Homo sapiens: one gene and its partners. The protein of the gene in region 1 interacts with the protein of each later gene in a pairwise test. Each region holds a gene or a part of one and is shown in the gene's direction. Other genes may lie near its edges.

What was found.
Region 2: the proteins of FCRL5 (region 1) and AMOTL2 interact in binary tests that used the Homo sapiens proteins (3 or more experiments, as listed by UniProt).
Region 3: the proteins of FCRL5 (region 1) and CAGE1 interact in binary tests that used the Homo sapiens proteins (3 or more experiments, as listed by UniProt).

Annotation. Positions count from the first base shown.
Region 1 is NC_000001.11:157,514,516-157,521,515, reverse strand, and holds part of FCRL5 (Fc receptor-like protein 5 isoform 1 precursor), read left to right. Parts: intron 1-223; coding exon 224-499; intron 500-954; coding exon of another isoform or gene 955-968; coding exon 969-1,085; intron 1,086-1,745; coding exon 1,746-1,773; intron 1,774-2,733; coding exon 2,734-2,816; intron 2,817-3,018; coding exon 3,019-3,087; intron 3,088-5,642; coding exon 5,643-5,674; intron 5,675-5,751; coding exon 5,752-5,841; coding exon of another isoform or gene 5,842-5,914; 3' UTR 5,915-7,000. UniProt on the Homo sapiens protein: Plays an important role in B-cell response to antigen that acts both as a negative or positive coreceptor.
Region 2 is NC_000003.12:134,363,938-134,371,816, reverse strand, and holds part of AMOTL2 (angiomotin-like protein 2), read left to right. Parts: intron 1-322; coding exon of another isoform or gene 323-383; coding exon 384-1,117; intron 1,118-3,954; exon of another isoform or gene 3,955-4,013; coding exon 4,014-4,320; intron 4,321-5,389; coding exon 5,390-5,534; intron 5,535-5,907; coding exon 5,908-6,000; intron 6,001-7,879. UniProt on the Homo sapiens protein: Regulates the translocation of phosphorylated SRC to peripheral cell-matrix adhesion sites. Required for proper architecture of actin filaments.
Region 3 is NC_000006.12:7,379,233-7,387,111, reverse strand, and holds part of CAGE1 (cancer-associated gene 1 protein), read left to right. Parts: coding exon 1-133; intron 134-1,239; coding exon 1,240-1,327; intron 1,328-7,879.

The DNA of each region.
Region 1 (7,000 bases):
CTATTTGAAGTTTTCAGTGATTTATACACTTTTTACAGTTTTCTATTGGATATTTTTGTACACTGAAAACTATTAGCAGGTCAAAGTAATTAGCTTTATCATCTATGTTTTAATCTACTTTCCAAGATTGAGATATGACTTTTTACATTTGTTTATGATACCTTTTGTTTCTTACAAATATGTTAGAAGCAGAAACTGCTGTTGACTTTTTGTTCTCTTTCAGTTCCGGTGTCTCGCCCGGTCCTCACCCTCAGGGCTCCCGGGACCCATGCTGCGGTGGGGGACCTGCTGGAGCTTCACTGTGAGGCCCTGAGAGGCTCTCCCCTGATCCTGTACCGGTTTTTTCATGAGGATGTCACCCTAGGAAATAGGTCGTCCCCCTCTGGAGGAGCGTCCTTAAACCTCTCTCTGACTGCAGAGCACTCTGGAAACTACTCCTGTGAGGCCGACAATGGCCTCGGGGCCCAGCGCAGTGAGACAGTGACACTTTATATCACAGGTAAGTTTCCCGTGCCCGGGCCACAGATGCGGACAAAATGTTTCCTCCGCGGACCCTCTGATAACCCTCACAGTGCTTGATCAGAAAGGCACTCCTCAGGGCGAAGTAACACAGCTGGCAGCTCTCTAAACTGCTATATTTCCTGAAGTGCTTCTGAAGTGATGGCGTTGGGGCTGAGAGCGCGGGTTGGCGGGCTGGGCGCAAGAGCGCCACTGACTTTAGAGGTCCTCACCTGGCTGCCTCCTCTCTCACTGGCCACCGGCCACCCTGACCCTGGACACTTGTCTCAGGCGCAGAGACGGCTTCCTCACAAAGACAGGAGCCATCTTCTGTGCCACACCAGCCCCTGCTTAGCTGCCGGGGACCTGCTCACCTAGGTTCACCGTCAGGCCCAGGCAGCAGCTTCCGGGAGCGGGCAGTTCCAGACCACAGCCTCTCCTCTGGCTCACACACAGGGTCTCCCCCTCAGGGCTGACCGCGAACAGAAGTGGCCCTTTTGCCACAGGAGTCGCCGGGGGCCTGCTCAGCATAGCAGGCCTTGCTGCGGGGGCACTGCTGCTCTACTGCTGGCTCTCGAGAAAAGCAGGTGGGTGACTCTGGGCACACCTTGGCTTGAGTTCATGCCCTTCCCAGCAACGCTCCCTTGGGCTTCATGCTGCCTTTGTGACCATCCCAGGCTCGCAAGAGCTCATCCGCTCTGTCCCTCAATCCTCTTCCTTTCCCGCTGGGTCCTCCCGAATTGCTTTTACCAAATGCACAGTTTCCAAAACAGACCTATAAGGTGGGAGACGTCTTGATGAGATGTAGTTTATCCAACATCATAAACTACAGAGTGTCTTCCTCTCGACCCTTATAAGACCCCCCCAACGAATGGGAAGAGGAGGAGAAAAACTCAGAGAAATAGAAATGAAAATAGAAACCAGATAGGATTCAGTAATTTTCCGATTTTTTAAATGTACACTATTTTTATAGTTGATCAAGTCTGTTTTCCTGCCTTGGAGATTATCTTTAAAATCTCCAGGTTAAAGGATTACGGATTGTGGACTCCCGTTTCACATCATAGCAAACCCCTCTGGCAGGGTCAGTAGTTTTTGCCCAATCTGCTACCTCCCTGGGGCATAACAAAGAAGGATTCAACCTTCAGTGACAGCAACTCCTGGCAGTTTCTAAGTGAGCCTTGCCTGAGCTGTGCCCCACTGAGGGTCTCATCTTCCTGAATCCAATGCTCCTCTGCTTTCCTTTACAGGGAGAAAGCCTGCCTCTGACCCCGCCAGGTAAGAGCTGAGCTGCATTCCTGTGTGATTAGTGAAATGTCCACAGGGTGGAAAAATGGAATTGAATCTGATGATTACCAAGAGCACAGTTTCTGCCAGGTGCTGCTGAGCTGGGGTGTGGCCACTACCTGTTGTACGTCCCTGGGGATATCTTAAGGCAATTCCCAGGACCTTTGCACCCACCCCCTTAGCTGTATAGGCTGTTATCTCATCAAGTATTAATTGCCTTTTCATTTATTAACCCACATCCTTGGACCATTGTTGGCTTGGTTGTCTGAATGACCACTATGACCACCAAGTCTTTCCATATCTTGAGATGACCTTAGCTCAGTCAACCTAGAAATCTCTGGAGATGCTGATCTCATCAACACCTCTTGTGATAACAACTGAGAAGATGGAGCCGCACAACTTGGCCACCCAGAGAGGTCACTCTGCCAGCAGGAGGTAGTCCCTGTGAAGAAGGGGCCACCATCTTGTATCCCTAAGGCTGACTTTAGGAGCCACACAAAGGCTCACAGCTATCCCTGGGCAAGCCCACGATAGCAGCATCCAAACATGTAGAGCACCTCGGAGCCTTCTGGTCACTGATCTCTCTGAGCATGCAGGGTTCGGAGCCAGCTTTGAGCCTTGGCTCATCCCCTTTCTGGTTACATGATCTTCATAAGTCACTTATTGGAGCCTCCGTTTGTTTCAGCTAAAACGAGGATGAAATAGAACTAACAACGTATTGCTGTAAGCATCAGCACCATGCCTGTTACACACTAGATGACCAGAAAGCCTGGAAACATATATAATATGATTATGATTCATAATAGAATGCCCATGGTCAGTTTGTTATGTACTTGTTCATGTTTCCAGGCCTGGCAGCCACCCTGCAGTAAGAAGTCACTCACTAGGAGTGATCATTATAGCTACTTTGTCTGGATTCCTAAGAAACATTCACATTTCTCTGTCTCACAGGAGCCCTTCAGACTCGGACTCCCAAGAGCCCACCTATCACAATGTACCAGCCTGGGAAGAGCTGCAACCAGTGTACACTAATGGTGAGGCCCGAGGATCCTGCATTTGGCAGAAGCTGGAGGGCTGGTGTGGGAAAGCGGTGGGGCAGGAGATGGGGAGGGACTATGCCGAGGCCTAGAGGGCTCTAGTCCTTCCAGAAAAGAGACTCTGGCTGGGGGAGGAGGAAGTATCTCTAACAAGAGGCAAGAACCTCAGCATCCTCTGAAACTTCAACTTTTTTCTAAGCAAATCCTAGAGGAGAAAATGTGGTTTACTCAGAAGTACGGATCATCCAAGAGAAAAAGAAACATGCAGGTAAGACCCAAGGATGTCTCTGTTCTGGCCCACCCTCAACTTAGACAGTATAGCTCAGTTTCTACCCACTCAGCAGATCTGAGCCAGACAGGCATAGAGCCGCCCCTCCCACTGGGTCATGGGGCTTCTTTATGTGTGCCTATGCTGCTTCAGGTGAATCCAAGCCTCCCCTGCACTCTCCTTTCCCTATTCTCTGCAGAGGGCCCCAGTATAACCTGAATAACAAAACTATCTTTTTGGGCATTCGCTTAACCTCTCAGACCTTCCATATCCCTATCCATAAACTGTGACTACTTCCCTACTGTCTTAGTCAGTTCTGGCTCCTGTAACAGAGTACCATAAACTAGGTGACTTAAAGAACTAATATCTATTTCTCACAATTCTGGAGGCTGGAAATCCAAGATCAAGGTGCCAGCATGGTCAGGTTCTTAGTGAGGGCCCTATTCCCATTTTCCAGACAGATGACTCCTTGCTGTATCCCCCACACAGCAGAGAGAGAGGGAGAGATCATCTTTCATGTCTCATCATGATAATCATCATGACATAATTGTCACCCAAAGGCTCCACCTCCAAATGCCATCACATTGGGGATTAGGTTTTAACCCATACATTTGGAGAGCAACACAAATATTTAGTTGATAGCACCTACCTACCTGTACTAGTTTCTGATTGCTGCTGTGACAAATGACCATAAATTTGGGGGGATGAAGCAGTACAAATTTATCATCTTACAGCTCTGTGGGTCAGAAGTCTGACGCCGGTCTCACTGGGCTAAAATCATGGTGTTGGCAGGGCTGTGTTCCTCCCTGGAGGCCCATCCACTTTCCTGCACCCATGTCCCCTTCCTTTCCCAAAGCCAGCAAAGTCACATTTCTCTAATCATTCTTCCATAGACAGGCCTCCTTCTGACCTCACCTGAGAAAAGTCCTTGGGTTTTAGAGAATCATATGAGTATATTGGGCCCATCTGGATAACCCAGAATAATCTCCCTATCTCAGGGTCTGTAATCCTAATCACATCTGAAAGGTCCTCTTTTCCACTTAGGGTAATATAGTCACAGGTTGCAGCAATTAGGGCGTGACATCTTTGGGGGCACATTATTACAGCTACCATGCTGTTTCATGGGGTAACTGTGGGGACTAAATGAGAAAATAGGTGTGGAAATGCTGTCGAAACTGCAGAGGGTTGAGCAGCTGTGACGATGACTACATGCTGGAGGTCTGGCTATGTCATCAACCCTCACTCACAGTCGGTGGTTTGAAATGAGGGAATCCCAGCCCGGCTGCCTCCTTACTCGGAGCAGGAAAGAGGAACAAAGTCCTTCACGGCAGGCTTTTCTTTCTACCTCTGCTTCATAAAAAGTGCTGCGTGATTTTAGCCAGTGTGCTTCCCTCTCTGGTTTTCTAATTTTTCTTATATAAAGTCAAGTGAATTGTGTTTGTGCCTCATTCTTGGTTCTATAGCACCCCTCTGAGACATGTGAACTCATTCACTCTTACAAGCCCCTTTGAGGTATGCGCTGTTACTACTCCCATTTTACAGATGAGGAAACCAAGGCATAGACACCTTAAATGACTTGCCTGAAATCTTATAGTCAATCACCAAACAGTCTTCTCCAGAGTCCAAACTCTAGACCAAACTCTGCTTCTTCATGCAATTCCAGGGAGTCCTGATGCTCATTCCAAGCCAAAAGGGCAGAGCCTTGTCTGGAGAATGTCATATTTCTCTCCAGTTTGATGATAATATAACAATAATAATTTATAATATCTATCATGTGCTGAATAGTTCCTATTATGTGCTGGGTATAGTTCTATAAGTGCGATAAATAAATACACTATATTTGTATGGATAGCTCTTAGAACTATACCTGTAGCACTTATATAGAACTATGGCATGCATACATATGATAATAGAGAGAGAGAAAATGTATTGAATATAGCAATCAGGACTGTACCTGACACATAGAAACTGCTCAATACATGACAGATGATAGAAATAATATATGCACAGACACACAGATACATGTGCTCACACATATGTGTAAACTCATATAGCTTCACCACAACCTTACAGGCAGAGGATATTTTTATTCCCATCATATAGATGAGGCAACTGAGGCAAGAGATGTTGAGTGACTTCCCCCAACCACGGAGGTGACAAGACAGGCGGCAGGCTCAGTTTCAGGTGGTCTAGACCCTGATGGAGTGTGCTCTCTAAAACTTGCACCCACCACACCTTCCCAGAACAATAATACCAATTATGCTCAAATAACTAACAAGATAAAAGACAAATGACTTTCTCTTGAGGGCCTCTAGGCAGCTCAGAGTGGGCCACAAAGTGTGAAGGGGAGTTGAAGAGAGGGTCTGTCAGTGCTGAGAGGCTGAGGGAGTTGGGAATGGAGAGGGACTGGGTGAGCACCAACTAAGAGGAATGGCTACTCACCGCACAGAGGGAGAGCGGGCCTCCAGGAGGCTCAGGGCTGGCCCCACAGCGCAGGCACAAGGGAAGAGCCCCATGCCAGTCTTCCACAACTGAACACTTTCCTCTTTCCACAGTGGCCTCTGACCCCAGGCATCTCAGGAACAAGGTGAGTCTCCCCTTCTGCATGCCCTCCCCCACCCCCAGGCCCACCCTGGTCCTCACGCATGTGCTCTTGCCTCCTAGGGTTCCCCTATCATCTACTCTGAAGTTAAGGTGGCGTCAACCCCGGTTTCCGGATCCCTGTTCTTGGCTTCCTCAGCTCCTCACAGATGAGTCCACACGTCTCTCCAACTGCTGTTTCAGCCTCTGCACCCCAAAGTTCCCCTTGGGGGAGAAGCAGCATTGAAGTGGGAAGATTTAGGCTGCCCCAGACCATATCTACTGGCCTTTGTTTCACATGTCCTCATTCTCAGTCTGACCAGAATGCAGGGCCCTGCTGGACTGTCACCTGTTTCCCAGTTAAAGCCCTGACTGGCAGGTTTTTTAATCCAGTGGCAAGGTGCTCCCACTCCAGGGCCCAGCACATCTCCTGGATTCCTTAGTGGGCTTCAGCTGTGGTTGCTGTTCTGAGTACTGCTCTCATCACACCCCCACAGAGGGGGTCTTACCACACAAAGGGAGAGTGGGCCTTCAGGAGATGCCGGGCTGGCCTAACAGCTCAGGTGCTCCTAAACTCCGACACAGAGTTCCTGCTTTGGGTGGATGCATTTCTCAATTGTCATCAGCCTGGTGGGGCTACTGCAGTGTGCTGCCAAATGGGACAGCACACAGCCTGTGCACATGGGACATGTGATGGGTCTCCCCACGGGGGCTGCATTTCACACTCCTCCACCTGTCTCAAACTCTAAGGTCGGCACTTGACACCAAGGTAACTTCTCTCCTGCTCATGTGTCAGTGTCTACCTGCCCAAGTAAGTGGCTTTCATACACCAAGTCCCAAGTTCTTCCCATCCTAACAGAAGTAACCCAGCAAGTCAAGGCCAGGAGGACCAGGGGTGCAGACAGAACACATACTGGAACACAGGAGGTGCTCAATTACTATTTGACTGACTGACTGAATGAATGAATGAATGAGGAAGAAAACTGTGGGTAATCAAACTGGCATAAAATCCAGTGCACTCCCTAGGAAATCCGGGAGGTATTCTGGCTTCCCTAAGAAACAATGGAAGAGAAGGAGCTTGGATGAGGAAACTGTTCAGCAAGAGGAAGGGCTTCTCACACTTTCATGTGCTTGTGGATCACCTGAGGATCCTGTGAAAATACAGATACTGATTCAGTGGGTCTGCGTAGAGCCTGAGACTGCCATTCTAACATGTTCCCAGGGGATGCTGATGCTGCTGGCCCTGGGACTGCACTGCATGCATGTGAAGCCCTATAGGTCTCAGCAGAGGCCCATGGAGAGGGAATGTGTGGCTCTGGCTGCCCAGGGCCCA
Region 2 (7,879 bases), on another chromosome or scaffold:
ATTAGTAATCGTTTACCAGGATTTTCACTGTGCCAGGAGCTCGCAGGCCACTGCCTCTTTTTTTTTCCTCATCTCCATGAGTCAAGCAGAATTCTTTGCATTTTTCTGGTGGAGAAACTGAGGCTCAGAGATTAGGTAACTTGTCTTAATCAGTAGATGGCAGCACTGGTACTTGAACCCAGGCTTGTGTGAACCGCCCCACCCCTGCTCTTCACTTTTATGCTTTCCACCAGAGTAATAATGGAAATCCTGGAAAGCCTTCTCCTTTCCCATGGGTTCCCACTGATTGCTTTTCTCTCTCTCTCTCCCCACCCCACTCCAGGTGCTCTGGGGCCAGGTGCCACCGGCCATTGTCCAGGCAGCTGTGTGCAAGCCAAAGAAGCATGAGGACACTGGAAGACTCCTCGGGGACAGTCCTGCACCGCCTCATCCAGGAGCAGCTGCGCTACGGCAACCTGACTGAGACGCGCACGCTGCTAGCCATCCAGCAGCAGGCCCTGAGGGGTGGGGCTGGAACTGGGGGTACAGGGAGCCCCCAGGCCTCCCTGGAGATCCTGGCCCCAGAGGACAGTCAGGTGCTGCAGCAGGCCACCAGGCAGGAGCCCCAGGGCCAGGAGCACCAGGGCGGTGAGAACCACCTGGCAGAGAACACCCTCTACCGGCTATGCCCACAGCCCAGCAAGGGAGAGGAGCTGCCCACCTATGAGGAGGCCAAAGCCCACTCGCAGTACTATGCGGCCCAGCAGGCAGGGACCCGGCCACATGCGGGGGACCGAGATCCCCGTGGGGCCCCGGGAGGCAGTCGGAGGCAGGACGAGGCCCTGCGGGAGCTGAGGCATGGGCACGTGCGCTCGTTGAGTGAACGGCTCCTTCAGTTGTCCCTGGAGAGGAACGGCGCCCGGGCCCCCAGCCACATGAGCTCCTCCCACAGCTTCCCACAGCTGGCCCGCAACCAGCAGGGCCCCCCACTGAGGGGCCCCCCTGCTGAGGGCCCAGAGTCCCGAGGACCCCCACCTCAGTACCCTCATGTTGTACTAGCTCATGAGACCACCACTGCTGTCACTGACCCACGGTACCGTGCCCGCGGCAGCCCGCACTTCCAGCATGCTGAAGTCAGGTAACTCTCCCCACCTTGGGCTTTCCAACTCCTGGCTTTCTTCCAGCACAGGTCTCTCAGGGAGGAGAGCCTCAAGATCACAGCTTGTGTCAGAGCTAGCAAGATCCACCCCACCTCCAACCTGAGAAGGGAGAGCTAATGCCTGGCAGAGAAGAGGGACTTAGCTGAGGTCCCCTAAGAAGTTAGTGGTGTCCCTTGCCTTAATTCAGAGATAGGCACCATTGTCTGCTTAGCTGTAGCATTCAAGTAACTAGAGTCCCCAGAGTACACAAATTGCAGCAGGGGGTTAAAGGTTAGATTTCAGAAAGAACTTCCTAAAGGCAAGGTTGGGAATGATTGCCAAACTGTTTCCAAGTTAAGCAGGAAGAAGGTGGGACTTCCTTCTCTGGAGATTTTTTAAGAAAATATGAGCAGCTTGCTTTCTGTGATTATTGGGAGGCATTCCTAACTAGAGGCTGGAAAGGCCCAGTGGTCTGATTAGAGACCTCTCAGCATCTTACACCAGGGCAGGAGCTTACTTGTCTCTCCTCTTCATTTCCTGCCATATGCTCCCTGCGTCTGCAGCCTGCAGTGGGAAAGGATTCTGGGTCCAAGTGGGCCCTTTTCTGGTGAGGCTCAGGAGAGGCTGCTGGGCCATGGTAGGGACTTAGAGTTTGATTCTGAGTGTGCTGGGAGGCCCTCAGGGGATGTGATTTGGTTTACCTTTTCTAAATGCTCTCTCTGGCTACATGCAGAGCATGGTTTGTAAGGGGCCAGAATGGAAGCAGGAAGACCCGGGGAGGCAAGAAGTCTAGAGAGTTTGGAGAAATAAGTGTTCCTAGAAACAAGGCCCTGCCTCACGCTTCTCATCTTGCCCAGCATCTTTTCCAGAGAAGCAGACACAGCCATCACTGCTGCATCTCCCCCTATGGGAGTCCAAGAAACCCCACCAAGGGACCCCAAGGATTTCAGACTCTTCCTCTGGTGGCCCAAGGTCAAAGTCTGGTTCTCTTCATGCCTGCTGTGTTCCTTTAGTAAACACCCACTTTCCCACCGTCCGGCTTTCCTTGCTCTCGAGAAATGAGTGACATGATGGGGTTGGTATGGCGGAACCAGAGGTTGGAGCCTCATAGTTTTTCTCCAGCCTCCACCCCTCCAGACTCGCACTTTATCGCCCCTCTCAGGGCTCGGTCAGGAAGAGTTTCGGAAGCTGAGTGGTGGTTTCTTCTTTTGGACCAGCCTTATTGAACCCTGTCAGGAAAAGATAGTAATCACGGCAAGGAAGTAGACTGTTTGCAGGAGAACAAAAAGCAGGGGAGGGAGAGGACGAGGAGAAAGGAAAGCAAGTGTGAAGGGAAAGGAGTTGCTATTCTTTCTCAGAGCTAAGTCATCCCCAAAGAATGCCAGTTGTGTCTGCCTGGCCCAGTGCAGGGGGGAGCAAGTTCTTGAAGCAACCTTGAGAATGGCCATTTTAGCAGTGGAATGGAGAGTTTGAGCACTCCAGTGGGGACCCTCTTCCCAGCTCTTACTGGAAGCCCCACCTTAGGTAGTAGGAGAAATACATCTGCCCAATATCTCCTTTCAGATGATCCAGTGAAGATTATTTGTTAGGAAACGGGCTAGACTCCTAGCCTAGGGTCCTGAGAAGAGCAGGGGGGCCATAGGCTGCATGGCAGCAAGAGTCAGGGGCAGGCTGGGTGTGCATTAGTGCTGAGATGATGCACCCAGAAGGGGAATTCGGTTTTTGCGGGGCTTCTGGGACTTGGAAGATTCTTTGTGAAACTGAGGCAGTTGTGACACTGGGAATCACAAGGTCCCAGGAAGGCCCTTGGACTCCCCGTGCCTCTTGCCCTTTGCTCCTTCCCTCAACATGGAGCCCTGGGGGTGATGTTACACCAGTGCCAGAGGCCAATAGAATATTGTCCCCTGAACTCAGTGACCACAGTAGTCCAGAGGCAGCCCTTACTCCCAAGGAAACCAAGAGTTTGGGCCACATTTGTTCTCTAAACTGAGGGTAAACTGAGGCTCCTACTAGAAGAGATGGAGGATGGGCCACCATTATAGGAGCACCTGCCACCCGCCCAGCACTGGCCCAGCACTCTGCCAGGCCTTACATAGCGTCATCCTCAACAAATCCCAGCGAGGCTGGAGACCCTCATGATGCAACAGAGCAATGCCCAGTCTGTGGGGCTGAGGCACTCGCCCAAGGTTAAACAGCTGGAGCAGGGATTTGAACCCCTATTTGTCAGACTCTAGAGCTCAGACTCTTACCCTGACATTTGTCTCATTGCTCTAACCTTAACTGGAGTCTTCTAAAAATGACTCTGGGTGAGTGGGGGGTGGGGGGTGGCAGGACTTGAAATAGGAAGGAGAAAATGAGTGCTGCTTTGGCAGTCTTGAAACTGGCGACTCGTGTAATAGACACAAGGTTGCTGCTGGGGCCCAGCCACCAAAGTTGTCCTGGGGCCTGGAAGGTTATATGCTCAGTCATGATTGACATGGCCTCCAGCCCCAAAAATAACCTTCCATTGATTAGAAGTGTCAGGGTGCATTTTTTAAGATGATGTATTTAAGCATTAGTTGCTTAGGAGGCCCAGGATTGCTCAGGCTGATCCCCAAGGCCCCAGCCACTGTGAGGCGGGTATGAAACAAGCATCCTGACATTAATCCCCTCTAGCCCTGCTGTCTGACTCTTGAGAGCCTCAGGCAGAAACATTTGGAAAAGGCCTTCCCTACTGGTCCCTGCCTAACACTAGAGGGTTGAATAATTATCTGCAGTAATTTTAATAATATATTAATTATTGATAATAATTAACCATCTTCCCAGTATGCCTAGGAGTGGGGTGACCCCGGGCTGCTCTGGTGGGAGCCATGAGGGTCTGTGCTGTCTCTGAGCACCGTCTCTTCTGTTCCCCAGGATCCTGCAGGCCCAGGTGCCTCCTGTGTTCCTCCAACAGCAGCAGCAGTACCAGTACCTGCAGCAATCTCAGGAGCACCCCCCTCCCCCACATCCAGCTGCTCTCGGCCATGGCCCCCTGAGCTCCCTCAGTCCACCTGCTGTGGAGGGGCCAGTGAGTGCCCAGGCCTCCTCAGCCACCTCGGGCAGTGCCCACCTGGCCCAGATGGAGGCCGTGCTGAGGGAGAATGCCAGGCTGCAGAGAGACAATGAGCGGCTGCAGAGGGAGCTGGAGAGCTCTGCGGAGAAGGCTGGCCGCATTGAGAAGGTAGGCCCTGCTGGGGCTTCAGAAGGGCAGACCAGAAAGAGACCCCGAGGGGCTACCTGGGGAGTGGGTAGTCCAAGGAGAGGCAGAGGAGCCTGAAAACTGTTTGGCTGGATTTCTCCCTATCCCTCTGTCTTCCACCTCCCTCACTCCTCATGCACCCTCCTGAGCTGACTCCAGACAGCTGGGGAACAGCCGAGAGGCCGGCAGAGCAGGCCTGGAGCATGAACAGTTGCTGGCCAGTGGTGATTAGAAAGAGCCCATTCACCAGCTCCTTGCACACTCGCACCCTTGCCCTGCACACACCCCCTCCCATGGACACCTCCCACAGAGAGCCCTTTGTGTCCCCCACACAACAGCAAGTCTGTTCCAGGCCAGCCCTGGCCAAAAAGAAAACTTCTCCTCTTGGAAAAAAAATGGGCGACTTGTTGGAATCACAGGCCAGCTAAGAGCACGTGCGGAACCTGCCAGCAGCCAAGTGGGAGGAGCAGCCGGGGCCCAGCTGGCCCTCTGGGTGGATGGTGATGCCTGGGACACCAGGCAGAGGCAGCTCTGCCTGGTGCCCGCTTCTTTAGTGAAGGGTTACCAGTTTTCCGCTGAGGCTCAGTTTTAGCAGATGGCCTCAGGCCTCCCTTGACTGTCCTGTGGTGTCCAAGTTAGGTCAAACCACCCCATCATGGCTGGAGTCTTTCGGTGCCCACTTCTGGCCAACTGTACTCAGTTTCTTGGTGGAAGCCAGCCAAGAGTAGAATGTTTCCTTCTGGACACTGGGCACAGGGAAGCTGTGTTTAGTCACCCCGCAGGCAGCTACTTCCAAAGTACCTGGCCCTGGGTTCACTCAGCATCTGGTCCTTGGGGCAGCCGATGGGACCGTTGCTTGCTGGTCCCAGCAGTCTATTCTACTTCCGGAGGCTACAAGCTTCTGACCATCCCACCATAGTCACCTGGAGGTTTTGCTCCTGTTTGGTGGCCTCTCATCTGTCACCTTTTCTGATGGAGAGTAGTGGGTCAGCCTCGAATCACTCCCTGGGAGCTCTCGCCTTCATTCAGCTCTGCTGTCTGACTCTTGCAGCTGGAAAGCGAAATCCAGCGGCTCTCTGAGGCCCATGAGAGCCTGACCAGAGCCTCCTCCAAGCGTGAGGCCCTGGAGAAGACCATGCGGAACAAGATGGACAGTGAAATGAGGAGGCTGCAAGACTTCAACCGGGATCTTAGAGGTGAGAGCCAGTCACACAGGTGGAGGTTGGAGAACCTCTGCAGAGGACTTACTTCTTTTGTTCTAGAGAAAAATTGGGAATCTCTATTCTCTGTCAAAAGTGCAGATGAACTCAGAGAGCCAGGCTGAGACCCCTTTGGAGCTGCCCTGATAGAGAGATGCTTGTCTCTATGTACTGGGCCTAGGATCCCCTCAGGGATGATGGCTCTTGACAGAGGAGGCTCCCACCCATGGGGCCCTGAGCTGAGCTGGGGTTTCCTTATGAACCCATCCCCAATATGGAGGATACAGCCCCATCCTGATAGGACGTCAGGAAAAATCCCAAGCTGGCAGCTTCACCTGACACTAAAACATCTTTCCTTCCCTTGAAACAGAGAGATTGGAATCTGCAAATCGCCGCCTGGCAAGCAAGACACAGGAGGCCCAGGCCGGCAGTCAGGACATGGTGGCCAAGCTGCTTGCTCAGAGTGAGTAGGGGCCCCACTAAGAAGCCTGGCCTGTGTGCAGGCAATGGGACTGCTGCACACCCTCTGGACTAGGAAGATTGGCCTTCCCCCTTGCAAAGTAGTACTTTGGGAGCAGGTTTACTGCCCACTGTATGCCCAACACTAGACTGGATCTGGGGATAGTGGGGATAAGTGGCTTCCAAAGAAGAATAGGATCTAGTTCTGTATCTTTTAAGAAGATCAGCTGACACAAGAGGGAAAGCCAGGGAGCAGTGATTTGCTGAGCTTCGGTGCTGACCACCAGTGCAGTGCATTGGGCAGTGCGGGAGGCAAGGTAGCCCTGAAGACAGATGAGGTGAAGGAGAAGGACAGGTCTGAGAGCTTCCCAGGGAGTTCCTGGCAACAGAAAGGTCGGGAGTGTGCAATGGGAATGTGAGAGGTAGGGGGGCATGGTGGAGCTGAGCCATAGCAAGCCAAGTGGAGGCATCTGAGGCAGCCAAAAATGGGATCCTAGACCTTAACCAACAGATGCATTCTAAACGGGGCGGTCTAAGCATCCTTGAAGAATGGGCAAGTTCATTGACTAGTCCATTTATTCATTCATTAGCAGATGTGTTTTAAGCAACTGGCAGATGTTCAAGAGAGAATGGGAGCAGGCCCAGGAAGGTACCATGGCAGGGAGGTCAGGAAGGAAGTGGTGAGCTTAAGAAAGGAGCAGGTTCCCACAGATGCAAAAGAACAACGGGGGTGGCCCTAGAAACCGGTGATTAGGAGCCCCGGTGGCCTGAGAGAGGGGCTCTGTGGGGATGGCAGGGGTGGAGAGCCAGCCAGAGGTGAAGGAGCTATTGGGCAGTTCAAGAGGTACATGGGGTGGGTGGCAAAGGGAGCCCTGAGCTCAGCAGCAGGAGGCTCTAGCAATCAGAAGAGACTAAGAACAGTTATTTATTGAGCTCCTACTAGGAGCTTTAGTGCTGTTCAAGGTGTTTGCAGAGAAGTGGAATGGGAGTGGTTGGTAGCTGGGTAAACATGGCTTTGAGTCTTCACAGGAACCCTACTGTGAATGGCACAAAGGGTAGTGTGGGGTGCAGAAATGGAGGAGCAGCTTGAGGACTTAGCTCTGGCTGGCAGCACCCCTATCTTCCTTCAAAGAGGGTTCAAAGACTAGGGCAGGGAATGGGGGAACACAGCACTGAAGGAATTGACAGGGTGGGGCAGGAGGTAGGCTGGTCTCTTCTGGCTGGGTGGGGTGAGATGGCAGCGGCTTAAGGTCTCTGGGAAGGAGTCAAAGGGAAGGAGGGAGAAAGGGGAGGGGGCAGCCCTGGGGTTTCCCTGAGGAGTCTGGGGAGGAGAAGCTGCAAGGGCACGGCAGATTAGGGTGCCTGTGGAGGAAGGCGGACTTCTGGAGCCTGACTCTGCCAAAGAAAGGAAGCCATGGGGCGGGTTTCTGGGAGCTTGCTAGTGGGTGAGAAGAGGGGGGCCGGCCGGGAGGCGTTTCCGCTCCCCGGGGAGCGAGTGAGCGCCGAGCTGTTCTTGGCTCCTCGCTGGAGCCATTAATCTTGCAGCCGCGGGTGACCTGGATGCCTGGCATTCCAGAGCCGCGAGCTGTTCCGCTCCCGGCCCGCCCCCCGCCGCTCCCTCCCGTGCGCGCTGCCTGGCGCCCTTCGCCCGGCTTTGGGAGGAGGGAGGGTGAGCACAAAGGGAGCCTGGAACGTGGAGGTGGGGGCTCGCTCGCTGCCCAAGGCGCATCCCGGGTCCCGTCGGCGCCTCGCCTGCCTTCCTGCCCTCCTCCGCTGGCCTTCGGGCGTCCTCTTCCCACCCGCACCCAGACCACTTATTTCTTACTAAGGAGCTCTCCTTCCCGAGATCCCGCAGGCCCAAGGTTTTATCAGGGTCCTGTTGG
Region 3 (7,879 bases), on another chromosome or scaffold:
TACTTCTCATGAAAAAGTAGAAAGCATGTCAGAATCGGATACCATGAATGTCAGCAATCTTTCTCAAGGTGTAATGCTTTCACATTCTCCAATCTGTATGGAAACCACCGGCACCACTTGTGACTTGCCTCAGGTGTGCATTGCTTATAAGTTCCAGGAGGCTCAGATGTATTCAGAATTCACATTGTCTTCCATATGAAAATTTCTTCAAAACTATAAGGAACAATAAAACAATATTCGGTGGACACATAAAGGAGGGGAATACAGGGTCTGGTTTTCCCAGTTTCGCTAGCGTAAGATACATTTTGACCAGCCTGGGCAACATGGTGAGACCCCATCTCTGCTAAAAATATAAAAATTAGCCAGGCATGGAAGCGAGCACCTGTAATCCCAGCTACTCTGGAGGCTGAGACAGGAGAATCACTTGAACCTGGGAGGTAGAGGTTACAGGGAGCCAAGATCGCGCCACTGCACTCCAGCCTATGCGAGAGAGCAAGGTACATTTTTACACACAGTGTTAAAACTGATCCTTTCTAGCCAGGAGTGCAGCCAGGGGACGTGACCAATTCAGTCAGAGGCAGGACAAGAGCCCAAGGAACCTGACTTCTAGTCTAATGCATCTTCCACTTACATCAGTATGCAAATGATTCAGTTGTCATTCATAATGACATTGACAGCACCCTGCATATAAATGACAACTTTCCTGTCTTCATGAAAATGCCTAGCTCCCTTTATTAAAAAATAAAAGATTGTAATGTCCCAATATCTTCATGAGTGTTGTGCTAAACGTTTGATAGTCAGTGACATCTGATTCCACTAAATAGGAATTTATAAAAATACATCAAAGATATATGCCTGTTTTATATATCTTCAGTGTTAAAAGACTGAAATAACCATCTTAATGCTGTTTAGACTAGATTTAATAAACATCAAATAATTATCAATACATAAATATGCTATCACGTATCCCTAAGTTTATAGTCACATGATTTGACTTACCAAAAAACCAAAATATTAAAATAACAAGCTATTTGTTACATTGTTGTTTAATATTGGGACTCTGTTAGCATAGTTTTACTAAAAGGGAGCCAAATACATGCTGGGGAAAGATACTAGAAAGCACATTCTACCTATGTAATGAAATATTCTAATAGCAGAATTATGTAACAATGTGCAAATACCTTTAGAAGAAGCTTGTGATGTTTGCTTGAAGTATTGATGCCTTTTTTATTAATACAGAACGAAATAAAGAATTTTGAAAGGGAAAATGAGTATGAATCCACACTTTGTGAAGATGCTTATGGCACACTAGACAATTTGTTAAATGGTAAGTATCTACTTGTTAGCAATATGCAAAAGAGAGAAACTTTTTTTTGTGTTCCGTGATAGTAACAATAGCCAGGTTTTGTGCTAAGCACTTTATATACATCATCACACTTAATCCACAAAAAAATCTTATTGAAATAAGAATTTTAAAAAATTGAAGTAAGGGCTGTTTTTATCTTCATTTTACAGATAAGGAAAATAAGGCTCAGAGAGTAACTTGCCCAGGATTGTGTAGCTTTAAATGAATGAGCCGTGATCAAGTCTCAGACTCAGACACAAAAATTTTCTACTATACAAGTATCCTTAAATGTGTATTGAGGTTGGGTGTGGTGGATCATATCTATAATACCAGTGCTTTGGAAGGCCAAGGCAGGAGGATTGCTTGAGCCAGGAAGTCCAAGGCTGTTATGAGCTATGATCATGTCACTGCACTCCAGTGGGCAACAGAAGGAGAACCTGTCTCTTAAAAAAAAAAAGCGGGGGCCAGGCACGGTGGCTCACGCCTGTAATCCCAGCACTTTGGGAGGCTGAGGCAAGTGGATCACCTGAGGTCGGGAGTTCAAGACCAGCCTGACCAACATGGAGAAACCCCGTCTCCAGTAAAAATACAAAATTAGCTGAGTGTGGTGGTGCATGCCTGTAATCCCAGCTACTTGGGAGGCTTAGGCAGGAGACTCCCTTGAACCCAGGAGGTGGAGGTTGCTGTGAGCCGAGATTGCACCATTGCGCTCCAGCCTGGGCAACAAGAGCGAAACTCCATCTCAAAAAAAACCAAAACAAACAAAAAACACCAGGTACAGTGGCTCACACCTGTAATCCCAGCTCTTTGGGAGGCCAAGGCAGAAGGATTGCTTGAGTCCACTAGTTTGAAATCAGATTGGGCAATAGGACGAAACCCCGTCTCTACTAAAAATACAAAAAATTAGCCAGGCATCGTGGTCCATTTTGGAGGCCTGGGTGGGAGAATTACCTGAGCGCGGGAGGCTGAGACTGCAGTGAGCCGAGATCACGCCACTGCACTGCAGCATGGGCAACCATAGTGAGACCTTGTCTCAAAAAAAAAAAAGAGAGCTGTGTGTTGATTTAACCCCAAATCTGTTATTCTAATCCTAAATTGACAGATGAAAGCTATTTAGGATTTAATCATATAATGAGATACATTGATCATGTTTTTGGTTTTGTTTTTGAAATGGATCTCACTATGCTGCCCAGGCTGGTCTCAAATTCCTGGGCTCAAGTGAGTCTCCTGCCTCGGTGTCCCAAAGTGTTGGGATTACAGGTATCAGCCACCACACCGGGCCCTACACTGATCATGTTTATTAAAGTAAATCTAAATGCTGTATACAAATGTCTTTATTTTTAATACTTGCAAATAATACTAAAATGAAAAGATTTGACAAGGCTTATTGAAATTATGGAATTTAATACATGCAGGTGTAAGAAAAATAAGCGCTGCCGAGGCAGGCGGATCACGAGGTCAGGAGATCGAGACCATCCTGGCTAACATGGTGAAACCCCGTGTCTACTAAAAATACAAAAAATTAGCCGGGCATGATGGTGGGCGCCTGTAGTCCCAGCTACTCAGGAGGCTGAGGCAGGAGAATGGCATGAACCCAGGGGGTGGAGCTTGCAGTGAGCCGAGATGGTGCCACTGCACTCCAGCCTGGGCGACAATAAGTGCTATAAGGATTAGAAAGGAAGAGAAGTAATTATCATTATTTGCAAATATGTACTTTTCTACATAGAAAAGTCATAAGCACCTACAGATGAGCTATTAAAACTAATAAGAAAGTTTAGAAGAAAGCTAGATATAAAATTAATATTAAAAAACCAATAGCATTCAATGCACTAGCAACAACAAATGTAAAACAGTAATTCTTAAAAACTTACTATTATCAGTAACAGCACAAACTAAGGTACCTAAGAATAAATCTAACAAAAAGTGTAAGTTTCCATTAAAAAACATTATAAAACTTTCCTGGAGGCCATAAAAAATAATTAAATGTTTCATGTTCAGATTGTAAAGATGTCAGTTTTCCTGAAGTCTATTGATTAATGCAATTTCATGTATCCTACCTTAATCCTAACATCCCCATTCAGAAGTGAAAAAGTTAAAAAAAATACCCAATACAATTTTGAAAAAGAAGATGTGGAGACTTACCCTGCTAGATAACAAGAGTTATTAGTTATAGTAATTATAACAATGTATTATAGGCAGAAGGGTAACAAACCAGTGGGATAAATAAAAGACAAAGTCCAAAAGTAGACCCATTTATATATGAGGACACCTGGTATTTGATAGAGGTGTCATTATAAACCAGTGGGGGTGTTCATTTGGTTGTGCTGGAACAGTTGGCTCTCTCAATGCAGAAAATGATTAGAACCTTACCTCACACCAAATACAAAATAAAGTCCACATGGGTAAAGGCCTACATGTGAACTGCAAAGTTCTAACTTATAAAAGAAGTGTAGAAAATGCTGTATTAGTCTGTTTTCACACTGCCATAAAGAACTACCTGAGACTGGATAATTTATAAAGAAAAGAGGTTTAATTGGATCACAGTTCCACATGACTGGGAAGGCCTCGAAACAGAATCACGGCACAAGACAAACAGGAAGCAAGGCATGTCTTAAATGACGACAGGAGGGGCAGGGGAACTGCCAAACACTTTGAAACCATCAGATCTTGTGAGAACTCAACTATCGCAAGAACAGCATGGGGAAAACCGTTCCCATGATTTAATTGCCTCCCACCAGGTCCCTCCCTCAATACGTGGGGATTACAATTGGAGATGAGATTTGGGTGGGAACACAGAGCCAAACCATATCAAATGCCTTTGTGACAACAGAAAAGATTTCTTTTTCTTTTTTTTCTTGAGATGGAGTCTCGCTCTGTCACCCAGGATGGAGTGCAGTGGAGCGATCTCGGCTCACTGCAACCTCCACCTTCCGGGTTCAAACTATTCTCCTGCCTCGGCCTCCTGAGTAATGAAACTACAGCTGCCTGCCACTATGTACGGCTAGTTTTTTTGTGTTTTTGTAGAAACAGGGTTTCACCATGTAGGCCAGGCTGGTCTTGAACCCCTGACCTTGTGATCTGCCGGCCTCAGCCTCCCAAAGTGCTGGGATTACAGGCATGAGTCACCACGCCCAGCCTAAGATTTCTTAAGACATGAGAAATGCAGGGCTGGGCACGGTAGCTCATACCTGTAATCCCAGCACTTTGGGAGGCCGAGGCAAGCGGATCAGGAGGTCAGGAGTTCAAACCCAGCCTGGCCAATATGGTGAAACCCCCGCCTCTACTAAAAATACAAAAATTAGCTGGGCATAGTGGCGCGTGCCTGTAGTCCCAGCTACTCAGGAGGCTGACGCAGGAGAATCACTTGAATCCGGGAGGCGAAGGTTGCAGTGAGCCGAGATCGTGCCACTGACTCCAGCGTGGGTGACAGAGTGAGACTCTGTCTCAAAAAAAAGACAGGAGAAATGCAATCCATAATCGATGCATTGACTACATTAAGAAAACGTCTGTATGGCCAAAGTATAATAAAGTAAAAAGCATGGAGTGAAGATACATGCAATATGTATAATTGACAAAGATTTGGTATCTAAAATAAAGAACTACAAGTCACTTAGAAAAAGGCACATAATGGCTGGGCACGGTGGCTCACGCCTGTAATCCCAGCACTTTGGAAGGCCAAGATGGGCGGATCACGAGATCAGGAGATTGAGGCAATCCTGGCTAACACGGTGAAACCCCGTCTCTACCAAAAATACAAAAATTAGCTGGGTGTGATGGTGGGCGCCTGTAGTCCCAGCTACTTGGGAGGCTGAGAAAGGAGAATGGCGTGAACCCAGGAGGCAGAGCTTGCAGCGAGCCGAGATCGCGCCACTGCACTCCAGCCTGGGGACAGAGTGAGACTCTGTCTCAAAAAAAAAAAGAAAAAGGCACATAATTCAGGCCGGGCACAGTGGCTCACACTTGTAATCCCAGCACTTTGGGAGGCTGAGGTGGGCAGATCACATGAGGTCAGGATTTCAAGACCAGCCTGGCCAACATGGTGGAATCCCATCTCTACTAAAAATACAAAAATTAGGCGGGCATGGTGGTGCACGCTTGTATTCCCAGCTACTTGGGAGGCTGAGGCATGAGAATTGCTTGAACCCAGGAGGTGGAGGTTGCAATGAGCCGAGATCGTGCCACAGCACTCCTGCCTGGGTGACAGAGACTCTGTCTCAAAAAAAAAAAAAAGGCACGTAATAGAAAAACAGGCAAAGTATATGTATTAGTAGTTTACTGGGGCTGCCATAACAAAACACCACAAACTGGGTAGTGTAAACAACAGAAATTGATTTTCTCATTCTTAGAGGCTGGCAGTCCAAGATCAAGGTGCCAGCACGGTTGCTTTCTACTGAAGCCTCCCTCCCTGGCTTGCAGATGGCCAGCTTCTTGCAGTGTCTCACATGGCCTTTTGTCTTTGTGTATGCCTTGCTGCTGTCTCTTCCTCCTCTTATAAGGACACCAGTCATACTGGATTAGGGCCTACCCTTGTGACCTCTTTTAAGCTCAATTACTTTTTTAAAGGCCCTGTCTGCAAATAAGAGTCATGTTTTAAGGTACTAGGGGTTAGAGCTTCAGCATATGAATTTTGGGGGCACACAATTGAGCCCATAACAGTATACAACAAGAAGATCACAGAAAAAGAAACCTGTAAGACCATTAAATACATGAAAGGATGTACATTAAGAAGGTCACAGTAAAATACCATTTCATGCATATGAATTTGACATGTTTTGGAGAGATGTGTAGAGCAAAGGAACCCAGAGGCTACTGGTAGAAGCATAAATTGGTACACTTTGGAGAGTAATTTTGCAATATCTAGTAAAGTTGAAGATATGTATTTTCTATAATCCAGCAATTTCACTTCTAGGTGTATCCCCAGAACCTAGCCAAAAGTTTTTACATTGGCATAGAAGGAAACATGTTCACTGCAGTGCTGTTTTTAAGGGCAAAATTAGAAGCAACTTAAATAGCCAACAAAAAAGGAATAAAGTGTAATCTTTCAGTAGAATGAACTACATATATATGTATATATGTGGCTAAGCCTCAGAAGCAAAATTTTGTGTGAAATAAAGACTTTTTTTTTTTTTTGAGATGGAGTCTTGCACTGTCACCCACGCTGGAGTGCAGTGGCATGATCTCGGCTCACTGCAACCTCCGCCTCCCAGGTTCAAGTGGTTCTCCTGCCTGAGCCTCCTGAGTAGCTGGGATTACAGATGTGCACCACCACGCCCCACTAAGTTTTGTATTTTTAGTAGATACGGGGTTTCACCATGTTGACCAGGCTGGTCTCGAATTCCTGACCTCAGGTGATCCACCCACCTCAGCCTCCCAAAGTGCTAGGATTACAGGCGTAAACCACTGCGTCCAAGACTTTTATATGGCTATAGATAGAGTGAGATGCTATTTATGTAAAATATAAAAGCACATAAAACAATACTATATATTAATCACTCACCTAAAGTGTTGCAGGGTATTTTGGAGTTTGAGGGAAACAGTGACACTGGACATCTATCAGACCCCCACAATCTGTTAGCTGTAGTTTTCACTATAAACCCATACTATAGTCCTTCCTATGATGTCTTATTTGTAAAGGTAGGTTTTTGGAGGTTGCTATAATAAAAAGCAAGTCCCGTATGAAAATCATTGTGGAATAGGAAGTGAGAGTGGTGGTCTCCAATCTGATTCCACGATTTGAGGTGCTGTACGGTGCCTAACAGTGTACATCCAAGTAGTAAAGTGTGGTTGTTTAAGAATAAAATATTATATTTTTCTTTTAGTTTATGTGTATTTTCAAACAGCTAATAACTTAGGACAAATACTAGTTTGAACTTAATTATTTACTAAATGGAACTTAAGTATTCCTTTTGGTCCAGAGGTACTGTGAAAAAAAGTACTGAGACATTAAGGGTGTCACAAAATGAGGAAATCTGGGAACTTTATTCTTTGGCAAGATTATGTTGATTTTATTATTTAGGATACATAAATCAGTAGTAAAAGTAAAATGGGAATGGGAAGAATGAATACATATGGGCTTCAGTACACTGGTTATCTCTGGGGAGGAGGAAAGTTAGATAAAAGGGATCAATAATTTGTAACATTCTGTTTTCTTATTTGCTCCTGATTTTAAAAAACATTACATCTGCATAATTTGTCATATTGAAAAATAGTATAGCATAGCATTTAGAAGTAGTAGTCTAGAATCTCAGCAGCACTGCTTAGCAGCTCTGTGACTTTGGACAAGTGACTTTAACATCTCTTACACTTCAGTTTCCTTATCTGTAAAATAGGGATAATAACAGTACTGACATCATGGGATTTTTGTGAGATTAAGCAAGTTTATATGTGTTTTCTATTATACTATCCTTGTCCTTTTGAAACATTGTATAATTTAAAACATCTTAAAATTACAGTACAACAAAAGAATTTTGAAGATCTCTTGAAATTTATTGTAATTTTATTTGACCAGAATTACATATAACACACTTTTTCCTA